2 separate regions of the Homo sapiens genome follow, and region 2 is linked to region 1. The links come from fine-mapping of genetic effects on gene expression. A gene starts in region 1. The other region holds a variant in brackets. All regions are shown on one strand. Distances are between the middles of the regions.

Region 1 (2,902 bases):
GAGCAACAGCCTGTCTCGAAAACAAACAAAACAAAATTTAGATCAATAAGCATTTCTGGCCGGACGTGGTAGCTCACACCTGTAATCCCAACCCTTTGGGAGGCTGAGGAGGGCAGATCGCTCGAGTCCAGAAGGTCGAGACGAGGCTGGGCAACATGGCGAGACCTCGTCTCTATAAAAAAAAATAAAAATTAGACGGGCGTGGTGGTGAGCACCTGTGGTCCCAGCTACTCGGGAGGATGAGGTGGGTCGATCACTTGAGCCTGGGAGGCGGAGGCTGCAGGGAGCCGTGATCGCTCCACTACACTGCAGCCTGGGTGACAGAGCCAGACCCTGTCTCAAAAACAAAACAAAACAAAGCTTTTTGCCTGTGAATTCCATGAACCATTCTACTTCCTACTGAAATACTAAGTGCCAACATCTACTGAGTGCTTCCTGCATACTAGGCATTGTATTATTTGTATTTTACATACGTCATCTCATTTAACCCTCACAACAACCCTGAGGTACTAACAGGTGCTAATCTATGTCACCGTCGGGAAACTGAGGCTTGGGCATGAAACGTGCCCAGGGGTTACATGGCTACTGAGTGGCTGCGGTGGGACTGGATCCCAGGCAATCCGACATAAGAGTTCCCATAACAACCGCTAATAATACAACTAAGAGAACAACTCAGTCCTTGGAGTAGTCTACAATGTGAGGTGGTATTATCACGGAGAGTCCACGTGCAGACCTTTCCCTGCAGGCACGCACGCTAGTAAGCATTTACTCGTAAGCATGCTTGCAGTTCAGAGCTTCTAGTCCACCCAGAAAACGCTTTCTATGCATTCCTCTGGATCTCCTTTTGTAGTCTTCCCAGGGATTGAAGACCTGGACACCGGCGCCAAATCTGAACAGACTCTCACTACACCAGTTCATGGAACAGGAAATCTCTGTCTCCGGCAACAGGTTAAGTCTGAAGACTGAGGCTACCTGCTGTCCAACAAACTTTAAAGGCTGACTTCAAAAGGCAGCCAGGCCTAGCTAATGCAACGGGGCCTTCCCTCGCCGCTCTTCCTGCGACAGGGGCGTTCCTGAAGGGAGGCTGAAGAGCAATGGGCCGACGCCGAGCCTGCCGCTCCCTCCCGGCGGGCACAGGAAAGGTGGAGCCCGCAGCCGTGGGTCCCGCTCCGTGGCGCGGAGGGCCGGGGTCTCGGCGCCGCCCCGTCCCCCGCCCCGCCACTGCGGCACGGCTGAGTCACCACCGCCTCCGTCCCGCGGCGGGGCCGCCCAGGCCAGAGGCCGGGAAGGTCGCGTCCCCCGGGCTTGGACAGCCGTCGGGGTCGGAGCCAGGGCTGGGGCCGGGGCTTCCAGGCGAGCCTCGCGCCCTGCTCGCTGTTCCGGGGCGGGGAACCTGCGGCTCGGGCCACTCACGCGGAGGCTCGGGGGAGTCTACGGGTGGCGCCGGGCCCGGTCCCCCGAGGCCGAAGGGAGCCGGGCACCAAGAAGCCAGGCTGGGCCACCCGCCGCCCCACACCGGCCCGGTCTCGCGGCCGCTCCCGCTCCGGCTCCTCACTCCTACCGCTCGCCGCCCCGCTTACTTGGCTTTGAGGCGCAGCAGCTCCTCAAACTGCCCGGCTGAGCCGACCTCCTCCACGGCCGCTACAGCTGCCTCAGCCGCCCCCGCCGCCATGCTGCCGCCGCCAGACAGAAGCAATCCAGTGCCGGCGGCCGGATGTGGGCGGGGCCACGGGGAGCTGAGCGGCTGCGCGAGGGAAAGCCCCGCCCCTGCCTGCGCTGAGGCTGCCGAGCCTGAGAAATCCCAAAAGGGGCCTCGGCGGCGGGCTCTGGATCCCGCTGGGGGGCTCTGACCCTGCCAAGTCTGGGCACTCCGCTGCGGGCCTCCTGGCTCCCGGGGTTCATGGCTGTTATGGTTCCTGGCTGTCGGGGCTCCTGGCTTTCGGGGCTCCCTGGCTGAAGGGGCTCCTGGCTGTAGGGGCTCCTGGCTATGGAGGTTCCCGGTTATAAGGGCTTCTGGATGTAGTGGATTCTGGCCGTCGAGGTCCCTGGCTGTCGGGGCTCCTGGCCGTAATGGCCCCTGGCTGTCGGGACCCCTGGGTGTCGGGGTTCCTGGCTGTCGGGACCCCTGGGTGTCGGGGTTCCTGACTGTAGGGGCTCCTGGGTGTTAGGGTTCCTGGCTATAGCAGGGGCTCCTGGGTGTCGGGGTTCCTTGCTGTCAGGGCTCCTGGTGGTAGAGGCTTCTTGCTGTTGGCTTCCTGGCTGTCGGGGTGACTGGGTGTCAGGGCTCCTGGTGTTAGGGTTCCTGGCTTCCTGGCTGTAGTAGGGGCTCCTGGGTGTCGGGGTTCCTTGCTGTCAGGGCTCCTGGTGGTAGAGGCTTCTGGCTGTTGGGGTTCCTGGGTGCCAGGGCTCCTGGGTGTCAGGGTTCCTGGCTGTCAGGACACCTGACTCCTGAGGCTCCTGGCTTTTGGGGCTCCAGACCTTCCTTGCACTTCCTGTGTCTCCTGGGTCTGTAATAGAAGGGGCCGGTGGAGGGGTGGGGGTGAGACATGTGAGTGAAAGTGAAGTCAGATGTGTACATTTAGGAAGCTGAAATTATCAAAAATGAAATTGCATAAAGGTGAGGAAGAACTGGGAGGTCTGGGAACAGAAGTGGTAGATCTTGAACTTCAACACAGACAGGGTGCTTCCAATTCAGTCCTGGGACCTGAACCCGGAGCCCACAGCATGTCCCTCCTCCCCTGGCCCTCCGCGCGTGCCGCCACTCATTGCAGCCCCACAGAGCCATCACCCATTGTAACCTCAGAACAGAAGGGGCTGGGTGGGTCCACAGATCCCTGCACTCCTCCCGTCTTGCCTCCTTGGATGATCCCTGGCTTGTCTTTCTCCCTTGGGAATCCCCCTG
Region 2 (2,902 bases), 51 kb before region 1:
ACTTTCTAAATTCACAAGGCAGCCTTCCCGGTCACTGGTAGGTGTATTTGTCAAGGTAAGAGGACAGAACAGTTTAATGTTTGTTCGCTTGACTTAAAACTTCCAGTATTTGCGGCCGGACGCGGTGGCTCACGCCTGTAATCCCAGCACTTTGGGAGGCCGAGGCGGGCAGATCTCGAGGTCAGAAAATCGAGACCATCCTGGCTAACAGGGTGAAACCCGGTCTCTACTGAAAATACAAAAAATTAGCCGGGCGTGGTGGCGGGCGCCTGTAGTCTCAGCTACTCGGGAGGCTGAGGCAGGAGAATGGCGTGAACCCGGGAGGCGGAGCTTCCGGTAAGCCGAGATCGCGCCACTGCACTCCAGCCTGGGCGACAGAGCGAGACTCTGTCTCAAAAAAAACAAAACAAAACAAAACAAAAAACTTAGTGTTTGCACACGGCATGGGAGGATTTCTATCTGAACTGCTGCTCCCAGGGTGCCCACGGCGACCTCACCCTCTGGAGACCCAGGTAACGGATCCGCCGTAAGAACCCAGCGGGGTGGGTGCTCCCGCCCGCGTCAGACCTGCCTTCAGGGAGAATCCGTCCCCCACCCCAGGCCTAAGCACAGCGCTTGCTGTGATCCGGGAGAAGCAGGATCCGGAGCCTGGTAATGAACCCTGGCTGAGCCACTCGCCCCTTGGATAAGAGCTTTGGCAAATTCCTGAGCTTGTTTCCCCACCAACAAAAATAACCCCCAAAACGCCATCGTGCTGGGGGGCCCTCGGGTTCTAAATAGGCACCGCGCTTCGGGCAGGGCATGGCCTTCACGGTGGGCTGCTCCTGTGGTGCCAGCGTTCTCTCTCCTTCTGGCAAAGCCGGTCCTGGGCACCTCCTCACCCTCTCTGCCTACCATTAGGACCAATATGGGCCCATCCACAGCCCAGCACTCCACCCTGCACCCAGTGCTGTCCCTGGACACCCAGAGGAACATGTCTCCCTCCCAAGCCACAGGAGCCAATTCACTGACTCCTCACACCTCATAGGGGTTAAGAGGGCAAACTGCAGCCAGGAGGCCCAGAGTCAAATCCCAGGTCCAACAGGTACTATGACCAG[G/A]AGCAGTGTGCTTCACCCATGCCTCAGTTTCCCCATCTGTCAAATGGGGCTGAAGATGCCTACCTCATAGGGTTGTGGTGAGAATTAAATGACTTAATACATGTCAACTATTCATGACAGCACCTGTTTGCTGTGGTGGTTTCAGCATCAGGTGGAGAGTATGTCCCTGCAGGAATGCACCTAGAACAAGGGGTCACAGGTGACCGGGTGTGTGTTTCTCTAGCGAGCAGTTCGGAGCAAGTTCAAAGAAGATCATGGCTAAGGTGAGTGGCCCTTTAACAGAATCTCCGGGAAAGGAGAACCCTGGGGTCAGGGCCTGAGTTCCCCGACCTCCTTCAGCCACACTCCTTGAAGCAGGGCTGGCCTTCCAGGCCTGCCACCTGTGCGGTCCCATGGGGCCCTGCACTCAGAAGGACCACACTCAGTTTCACGTTCTGCTTTCGTCATCTCGAAATTCTTAATAATTTTATCTGAACTCGTGCTGTTAGTGCAGGGGCACCACAGAGCATGTGGGTGAGCAGAGAACTGGCTACTCCTTGCCACCCGGCTAACATGCAGGGTTCGCGATGCGCCAGAAGCAGCGTTCCAGTGGGCCTCAGCATCGGAGGTGACAAGACTCAAGGCGAGGGCAACATCAGCATGTAACCAGCTACGACAGGACAGCTGGAGCTGACAGCCCTGGCACCACGCTTTCCAATCACATGAGAACTTGCTTCCAGCCCAGAAAGAGAGCAATTGCATTCTAAGAAACACGGATGACGGAGGAAGCCATCATATCCTCTCTGCCTTGTCTCTTGCCTGTACTAGCCAACTACTCACACTGAAGATGACACAGAAGGCAGGCAATGAGAGGGCAACCCACAGCTCCTTCTCTCTCATGGTAACCTTAGCCTTAAGGCAGCATTCGCTGAGGGAATGTGCATGGATCAAGAGCATTTCCTTTTGTGCAGTGCCTCCAGCATCCTGGCAGAAGCTGAGATAGACATAGATGGGCCAGCTCAAGTATCCCACACACAAGTTAAATGCTCTTATATTTGCATTTGAAATTGCCACTACACAGTGCAAAGAAAAGCAGAAACATTCATGTTAATAACTTAATGTTCTAATTTTTCTTTAGAATATTAAGTAGCAAATAATACACACCCGGGGAAAAACCTTTATATCTTAGCACCTCCAACAGCACTTTTTGCCTGCTTTCTGAACAAGCTCTAAAATTTATAAACCTGGACCTGCACGCAGGCCCTGCCCAGCAATATAGGAGGCTCCTTCCCTGGCAGTGGCCCGGGAAACAGCACAGTGCCACAGCCCCGATGGGAACCCAGGGCTCCAGTGCTTAGCTGCAGGAGGAGGGCAAAAACCTGCCGTCACCCCACAGCATGCCCAGCGGGGTGTTATTTTCAACAGGAACATGCTTTCTTACACTTAAGTGTGTGAAACTACACACGCTTCCTGCACCTCAGTGCACAGGGTTCCGGGATGAAGACAAAATGCTGGCATGGAGGCTGCCCCAGAAAATCCAGCCCGCTAACCGTGGGCCACCACCTCCCATCTCAGCCTCTCCACTCAGGACCGTCCCTGCCAGATCCTATGCTGCTTCTCATCAGCAACTTCGGACAGCCAAGCGTGCTGCACATGGGACACGCTCCTACCCACCAGGAGCCTTTGATTCTGGGATAAGACTCCTGGCATGAGGAAGACCCGCAGATCCTCCCTACCTGCACCCACCAAGGGCAAATGCCCTGGAACCTTCCTCCAGACCTAAGGGCAAAATAGAGGGATATGCTGGGGCTCAGAAAATGATACCC

What was found. PIP is the estimated chance that this variant, and not a neighbour inherited with it, causes the effect.
Region 2: its variant is fine-mapped to the expression of GLRX3 in whole blood (INTERVAL, PIP above 0.99). The same link has a PIP of 0.9 or more in T cells.

Annotation. Positions count from the first base shown.
Region 1 is chr10:130,135,191-130,138,092 of GRCh38, reverse strand. GLRX3 (glutaredoxin 3) reads right to left here and starts at 1,702. Exons shown (of 11, transcript NM_006541.5): 1 at 1,581-1,702. The coding sequence starts at 1,672. LOC105378561 (a long non-coding RNA gene) reads left to right here and starts at 1,722. Exons shown (of 6, transcript XR_001747659.2): 1 at 1,722-2,902. RefSeq lists enhancers at 1-592, 871-920 and a silencer at 1,121-1,720.
Region 2 is chr10:130,186,654-130,189,555 of GRCh38, reverse strand. It overlaps LOC124902561, which reads right to left. Exons shown (of 2, transcript XM_047426136.1): 2 at 1-2,902. Among named protein-coding and RNA genes, the nearest start is that of GLRX3, 52 kb to the right of the region's middle. The variant G/A (reference allele first, on the strand shown) is at 1,098.